Regions from separate parts of the Homo sapiens genome. Here region 1 is linked to region 2. Evidence: fine-mapped expression QTL. A gene starts in region 2. The other region holds a variant in brackets. All regions are shown on one strand. Distances are from middle to middle.

The links. PIP is the estimated chance that this variant, and not a neighbour inherited with it, causes the effect. A credible set is the group of variants that fine-mapping cannot tell apart.
Region 1: its variant is the best candidate, but not a certain one, in a credible set for the expression of PHKA2-AS1 in blood mononuclear cells (TOPMed, PIP 0.53).

Annotation. Positions count from the first base shown.
Region 1 is chrX:18,916,590-18,920,589 of GRCh38, forward strand. It overlaps PHKA2 (phosphorylase kinase regulatory subunit alpha 2), which reads right to left. Exons shown (of 33, transcript NM_000292.3): 18 at 3,443-3,612; 19 at 2,092-2,265. Among named protein-coding and RNA genes, the nearest start is that of PHKA2-AS1, 28 kb to the left of the region's middle. The variant T/C (reference allele first, on the strand shown) is at 1,642.
Region 2 is chrX:18,887,676-18,892,194 of GRCh38, forward strand. PHKA2-AS1 (PHKA2 antisense RNA 1) reads left to right here and starts at 2,621. Exons shown (of 3, transcript NR_029379.1): 1 at 2,621-2,953.

The DNA of each region.
Region 1 (4,000 bases), 29 kb after region 2:
GTGATAAGTGAGCTCTCACTCTGAGTTCACAAGGGATATGAGATCTGGTTGTTCAAAAGTGTGTGACCACTCTCTCTTGTTCCTACTGTCGCCATGTGAAGTGTCTGCTCCCCTTTTGTCTTCCGTCATGACTGGAAGCTTCCTGAGGCCTCCCTAGAAGCCAAGTAGATGCCAGCATCATGCTTCCTGTACAGCCGGCAGAACCCTGAGCCAATTAGACCTCTTTTCTTTATAAATTACCCAGTCTCAGGTATTTCTTTATGGCAATGCAAGAATGGGCTAATACATTTTTTTTTTTTTTTGAGACAGGTTCTCGTTCTGTTACTCAGGCTGGAGTGCAGTGGTGTGATCACAGCTCACTGCAACCTCAACCTCCCTGAGCTCAAGTGATCCTCCTGCCTCAGACTCCCAAGTAGCTGGGACTACAGGCATGTGCCACCATGCCTGGCTATTTTTTCTATTTTTTGTAGAGACAGGGCCTCACTATCTTGCCCAGGCTGGTCTCAAATTCCTGGACTCAAGCGATCTTCCTGCCTCAGTTTCCCAGATTGCTCAGATTATAGGCATGAGCCACTGTGCCTGCCCAGGTTTAGATTTCTCAACAGCAACACCAACACACTGATAGCAAGAAGACAATAAGTCATACTTTCAAAAATCTGCAAAAAAATGTCTTTTTTTTTTTTTTTTGAGACAGGGTCTTGCTCTGTCACCCAGGCTGGAGTGTAGTGGCACGATCTCAGCTCACTGCAACCTCTGCTTCCCGGGTTCAAGTGCTTCTTCTGCCTCAGCCTCCTGAGTAGCTGGGATTACAGGTGCAGGCCACCAAACCTGGCTCATTTCTGTATTTTTAGTACAGACAGCGTTTCACCATGTTGGCCAGGCTAGTCTCAAAGTCCTGGCCTCAAGTGATCCGCCTGCCTCAGCTTCCAAAAGTGCTGGGATTACAGGTATGAGCCACCACGCCCAGCCAAAAAAATGTATTTTTAATCTAGAATTCTATACCCAGCCAAACTCTCAAATGGGTCTGGAACATTTGTAGACATTTTTAAAATGGCAAGGTTTCAACAATTTTACCCACCGTGCGCTGTTTCTCAGGAAACTACTGCATGTCCTCTATTAAAATAAGAGTGAACCAAGAAAGAAGAGTTGGGATACAGAACACAGGAGAGCCATCCCAGGAGACAAGTCAAGGAAGCCTCCGGGGAAGATCCCAGGGTAAAAAGCACCTCAGACACTGAGGGCAACCAAGCCAGAAGGGGGCAGAGGGCAGTGCAGTTCAAAAACAAGTAAGTCGAGAGCTGTCACCACCATGCCCTCTTCCACTTCACTTTTTTTTTTTTGAAACCTACTGAAACTATTCTAGAATGTGCTCCACCAAAACAGAAGAATACATTGAGAAAGGGGAACACAGCAGATTCAGGAACCACGGAATCCAACTAAGGAGACAAGCCAGGGAAACTCCCAGGATGACACATATGCAACAGGCCTAGAGCGCAGTCAGCACAGATAGAAGGAGACTCGTGGACTCTAAGAAAGGCAGTGGAATTGAGAGATTCACCGATACGACTGAGCTTGTGGAAATTTGTATTGCGAGGCCACTGGAAGATGTAGAAAGAAAGCAAAGCAAATGAAAAGCCAGGG[T/C]AACTTTACCTTTCGAAAAAACAGAGTAAAAATGGGAATATAAACAGAGTATACTATAATGCTCAGTTGGAAATATTTGTGTACATACAATGATATAAAGAGTGAATACTGATTTAACTAAACTTTAACCCCTTGGTGGGTTAGGGGGAGTGAAGCAGAGGAGTGGTGATTTAAGACAGCCAGATCCTTACCCACTTAATCGAAAGTCAACAAGTACCGAATCAAGTCAATGCATGTGAAGACAGCAGTATGTACACATTATTTGAGAAATATGGAGATATGTACATACCAGAAGAAAGAGCTAAAAGAGTTGAAAGTGGTTACCTCTAAGTAGAAGCACGTGGGGGGCATTTTGTTGTCTTCTAGGATTCTTTGGCTTTTAAATTATGTCCCTGCATTACTTTGATAAAAGAAGGTATTTTAACAGGCAGAAAAGAGTTAATAACATACATGGAACTTCCAAACCCTTTGCTTTTGCCATCACAGAAAGTATGTCCCGCGTGGAGTGGATAGCACTGAAGACATGGCGGTCTTCTGTGTTCTTACAAAGAGGAGGCAGATAGGACCTCAACGATGTGCTTTGCAGAAGGTGGTTGATATAATGGTCAAGTTCGTCTTGGCTTTCTGTAATTGGACAAGCAAGAAAAAGAGCCAATGAAACCAAGCTGTAGAAATATGACTACACAATAGTGACCATGGGTAGCAAGCAGCACTGAGTAGGCTTAGCAGATGACAACACTGAGATATCGATATTTGCACTCCCACTCACCCCTGAAGAGTAAGAAGAGATTTACAGAGATAATGTATGTGTGTAGAAATTTGCTGTTTGGAAAAACTTTATCCCAGGAAAAAAAAACTACCAGTCAAGATAGTGTTTACATCTCGTCCTCCCAAGATGAACTGAATAATATGTAAGACAGCCTGAAGGATAGCAGCCGAAGTCTGGGCTTTTTGTTTTAATTTGTCATGAGTGAGCTAAGCCTTATGGAACTCCCAGCCCTAATTCCAACTACTATCTAAAAGTGAAAAACAGATCACCTCAAAACCTTATTCAGACTGACAAATGTTATATACGTAGGGTTTCATCACTCATATCCAACCAAACCTAGATCATTCTACCACTCCTTTGAAAATTCAAGCAGTATGTTTCTGTCTTCAGAATGTATGTATTCTGTGCAAAGTCCCCATTCCTGGCCAGCCACGGTGGCTCATGCCTGTAATCCCAGCACTTTGGGAGGACGAGGCAGGCTGATCAGTTGAGCCCAGGAGTTTAAGACCAGCCAGGGCAACATAAGGAGACCCCATCTCTATAAAATATAAAAGAATTAGCTGGGTATGGTGGTGCTTCCCTGTAGGCCTATAGTCTTAGCCACTTGGGAGGCTGAGGTGGGAGGATTGCTTGAGCCCAGGAGGTCGAGGCTGCAGTGAGCCATGATCATGCCACTGCACTCCAGCCTGGGCAACAGAGCAAGACCCTGTCTCAAAAACAAACAACAACAAAAAAAAAAAAAAAAAAAGAGAGAGAGAGAAGAAAAAAAAGAAAAAAAGTCCCCATTCCTGAAACTCTTTGTCCTTCTAGGTTTAAAAATGCCCCACTTTCAAGGACATCATTTGCAGTTTCGGTTTTTAAACGGGCATTTTATTCATTTTAATATATGCAAGTTTCAGAAGCCTCTTTTTTGTTTTTCCTTGTTTTTAATTATCAATCATTGTCTATATTTGAGTCTTAGGGCAATTTTATCACAATGCTAAAGTTTAAATAAATTCAGCGAACTACCCACAAAAGCATTCCAAGCTGTACCTTGATTACAGGTGTCTTCCAGATATCCTACCAAATCTGAATCACTATCAGGACTGAAAGTCCCTTCGCTGGCATTGTCAAACAACTTCTCATCACAGTCTGGATCCAGAAAAGTCAGATATGTGTAGAACGATGTGGTGAGAAATTCCGAAAGGTTCCCTAATTTTACTCTGCCAAGAAGACACCGTGTTAGGGACACAGGTAGTGTGTGGATAACCTTCCACTATGAATCACTGAGAGACTTTTGCACAACCATGTGGTGCTTCTGCCAGAATCAATACATATATCACTCTGCAGATTGCCCCATATAAGCGGTCAGCCAAGACATTCAAACAAAAATTCAATAGCAAGTATGAAGTGAACGCGCACAGCATATTAAAAGCCAAATGAATCACACTGACTTCTTACTCCCAACCCAACACAAATACGACTCTATTTTACTGAACCAACCAACAGTTTGACAAAATATATTGCGCAAACTACTTTTAAACAGAACCAACCCATGTTTTTGTTTTGTTTTTTCCCCCAAAACGACTGGCCCAGAAGCAGTGATTCTCT
Region 2 (4,519 bases):
AGGGAGCTCTCTGCTTTAGGCGATGGAAAGCCCAGAATCCTTTCTGGTGAGATTCAGGCGGCAGTGCAAGGAGCCACTAAGAACGGCTGCTTCATCTTCTGGCGTGAAGAGCTGCGTCAGCCGCGGTGGGTGCAATGCCCTCTCAAAACCTTCTCCCAGCCTGCTGGGCCACTTTCGCTCCAGATCTCTTGTGGCTAATGAGGGAAAGGGGAGCAGGGAGCTGTTGCCTGCACTTCCAGAAGGAGGGGAGGTTGGGGAGAGGCAGAGAGGGCCGCCTGGCCTAGATGGCTGTGCCTCTCTTGAGCCCAGGAGAGACTCCAGTACTTACAGGAACTCAAACGATCCCTGGTGACAGCTGGAGGAAATTATTCACACTGTCAAGAGAGAGGCTTATACCACGAACGGTTCCAATTCATTATTTTTAAATCCCCCAGCTGGCTAAAGAGTTAGAAGAAAAGATGTGACAATCATTTGAGTCTTGTCCCAGATGGGCTGTCACTCAAGGGCTATGAAAATCGAATGGGACTGGGCTGGTGGTCACAAAAACTGCAGGGCGCACTGGCAATTCTGCAGGGCTTTGCAGGATGGTGGAAGGTGGTCTGGTGGGCCATACTGGGCAGCAGTGGTGATCCAGCCCCTATGGCTCAGTAGCATTTCTACCCAAAGACAGAACATGTAATTAATTGTCCTACCTCCATCCCAGAGGTGGGTACCAGGATGGCTTCCATGCACCTGGGGTGAGGAGGGGTTGCCTGCACGCCCCTCTTCACTCCTGACACACAGCCTTCCTCAGGGGCAAATGTGCCTCTTGCGTCAGCTCTCCAGGGCAGACCCTGGCGAGGGCACAGGTCCTTCTTTTATGGGCAGAGGAAAGAAAAGCAAGCATTCCAGCTGGAGCGGACACTGAGTTTCAGATGTTTGGCATTTGAACCTCCTTCCTGTGTTCAGGGGATCCCCATGTTATGAAGTGGGGACCTCCACTTTGGAAGGCAGAATTCTCAAGATGCGGCTTTTTTCTTTTCTTTGAGACAGGGTCTTGTTCTGTCACCCAGGCTGGAGTGCAGTGGTGCAATCACGGTTCACTGCAGCCTTGACTTCCCAGGCTTAAGTGATCCTCCCACCTCAGCCTCTTGAGTAGCTGGGAAAACAGGTGTATACCACTGTGCCTTGCTGATTTTATTTTTTGTAGGGAGGGTTTCACATTGTTGCCTAGGCTGGTCTCTAGCTCCTGGGCTCGAGACCTCCTGCCTAGGCCTCCCAAAGCGCCAGGATTACAGGCACAAGCCACTACGCCTGGCTGGATGCTGTTTTTTCTAACCTCTCCCTCAGCCGAGGCAGTATGCTTGCCTGAGACCTTGAAGTGGCAGCTAGTGGCTGTTTAAAATCCCTTTTGGTGACAAGTAGAAGCCTCTACATTTAGTTTCCAAAAGAGCAGAGGCAGTGGTCCCAGTGACAGTGCCCAGCATTGGGGGTGTCTGTGGTGTAAGTCCTGGGGTATGAACCTGGGAGTACTGGAGAATGACATGGGATCTTGGTCCTGGCTAGGGAGCCGCTTAGCCTGGTGACCATGTGACCTATCCAATATTGTTTAATAAACTTCCCACTTAACCCAGCCACAGTTGGTTTCTGTTGTTTGCAAATGAACTTCGAGACAATGGCAGCTGGTGGCACAGAGATTAGAGCCAGTTACTGGGATTTCTCTTTGGCAAGTCCATCCTGGGTTTGCATCTGGGAAGATCTTTCACAAAAGGAGATGTGGAAGGCACAACCATCCCCTCGTGCCCAATTCAGATGCAGCTTACCCTTTGCAGAGCCTGGCACCTTGGCTATGCCAGCTGCAGGGGAAAGGGGTGGCGGCCACCTGCAAGGGTTGGGCCAATGCTGCACAGGATTCGGGCTCAAGACACCAACACCCTGCTAGGCCAGCGCAGGGAACACTCACCACGGGAGCCTAGGGGCTTCCTCAGGGGCCTTCAAGCACAAAAAGAGATACTTTTCACCCTCCCACCCCCCAACCAGGCTGTATGCCTGCCTGGCCCTCAGTGGGCATGGCAGAAATGCTAGGATTCGTGTTGGATTCATGCATTTTTCAGAATAGTTTAAGGACTGCACGAAGACAGAGGGACGAATCACATGACTTCAGAGTTCATTGGTTCCAACTATTCCAGCTCTCCTGAGAAGGCATGTTTTGCCAAAAGTGCACATATGTTCCTCTAAAGAAAACCATGGTAGTTTTTTGATGGAATTTTTTCCTCTCCCAGGCATCGTCAGACGTGCCCAGCACTCGACTGCAGAGCAGCCTCTCTCACAGTTTCCACTCTCATTTCTCAAAGAACTCTCTTGGTACCTCAAGGCCGTGGCTTTCCTAAGTGGCTTTTTGAGGGAGACAGCAGGGACTGGGCTTTAAGGGGGCCACAGCGCAGCTTTCTTTTCCCCTCACAGGCAGAGCTATCAGTAGCCACGTCGGGTAGAACAGAAGGCATTCTGGGAACGCGGTGCTCTCACATCCTGCAAAGTACAGGCCTGCAGAGCAGATGGCAGGGACTTCAAAAGCTAAGTCACCTTGAAAGATAATGGCACAAAGGGCGATTGGGGGTGGGGTGGGTGGGAGGCTTTTGTACCCTTTTGCAACAAGGAAGCAGAAAAGACAAAAGCTATTTGCCAGCCTGGTGCGGGAATCAACAGAATAGAGAGATGGTTCTGCTGCAATTTCCATCAAGGGTGGCCAAGCCTCCAGTCTTCTTGTCCAGAAGTAAGTGGCATCAACCAACTCTGCCAAACTGCATTTCCTGCCTCCTGATCTGGGGTCTTTTCCTTTTCTTTTTTCACACAGGGAGTATTTCCATCCTCTCTGTCCAGGCAGCTGAGCCTTGACAACCTCTCCTCCCCTTCACCATGCCCCGACTGATCTCCTAATGGAGCCCCACCCCTCGAGTCCCTGGGCCTGTGGAAGGTAGGGTCTCCCCCTCCTCCTCATCCTCCCCCACTCCACTCCAGGTGGGGTTGCAATAGGGCTTATCTGGTTTCCTCTAAGCATGAAGCCCTTGACCAGAGGAGGAGCGGGAGTTCACGTCACGCCCCCATGCTTAGTCCTGGCCTTTTGCATTTTTTGTGGATGGGTAAACTGAGGTACATAGTGGTCAACTCATGCCCAGGATCACAGAGGCACTGGCAGGGTGGCAGGAATGCTGAATTCACCTGATGAGAGCCAGGGACAGCAGCGGGTGGGGCGGTGGCTGCTTTTCAACTGAAGTTGTTAAAAGGAATGCTTATTCCTGGCCCCACCGGCTTGCCCTCCAAGGCAGAACGTGTTAATACCGAGCCCCAGCAAAGGTTCAAATTGACTTCTTGGCTCTGAGCAGGGAGGTAGAAGTTCCTGCCCCCGCCACCCCCGGCTCGAGGCTCCAGGGGCTGCCAGGCTCCTCTCGCCTGGCCTAGAAACAATCCCCTCCTGCCACCTCCACGCAGGTGCTGTCAGGACAGGCCCTCTGCCCTCAAACATCTGCTCCTCTCCTCGGGGAGGGGGGCCTCAGCTGCGCGCTGAAGGGGCCAGGCCTCAGAAGCCTGTTCTCCTTTGAAGCTGACAGCTTGATGCCTGTGGAAATGCGGTCCTATTTCAGGATTTCATTTTAAAGAGGTTTCAAAGGAGTGGCTGGAAGGCTTGGTGGAATCGCTTATTACGGCTCCTCTCCCGGCCCGCAGCTTGGTGGCTGAGCACGTCATCATCATTGGCAGGCAGGTGACTGTTCTAAATTAGCACCTGGCTCATTCTGGAGGGCTCTAACTCTTCCTGAGCTTTTTCCAAGAACAACTTTCATGACTTATACCTTCTTATACCTTTCCCACGTTATCTGTTTGAAATGATCCACGGGGCAGGTGAATTACGTGTCATCTCCAAGACTCTTGTTTCTGTCGGGCATGTCTTAAAGACACACACACATGCAAAGGCTATGAAAATGCGACCCCCCAGACCTGGGAAGCTGCAGCCCGTGGAGCCTCAGGGGCAAAGGGAGCAAACTGGCTTGTGAGGGAAGAGCTGCTCTGGTCAGCGGCTGTTGTGGGATGGGGAGGGAACAGGGTGACCCAAGGGGGCAGGGGCCTGGTGCCATGTCTGCTCATGTGCCGCCCTCCTTGTCTCTGGGATCTGCCCCCAAAATGCAAGAAACGCGTAAGCCCACTGTAGCAGATATGGAGAGACTCCGGGGGATTTTCCTTTACCTAACTACTCTGCACCTCTGCAAGGGAGAGCATTATGGTTTGGAAGAAATGGAAACGGCATGGAAGTCCCATGTGGGCAGAGCCTGCACACCAAACCCTTCTAGACTGCAAAGGGTTTGACTCAGCCCAAAGAGGACTCTGCCAGGAAGCTGTCAGGCACCTGAGGCCACCTGCCTCTCCTCCGCTTCAGGAATAACCATCAGTACTGCATCTTGGCTCTGAGGGGCACTGGGCATCACGATGCCCACTCGAAGCAGCTAGGGCACGTTGATCTCTGCATCTCCATACAGATGTCCGAGGA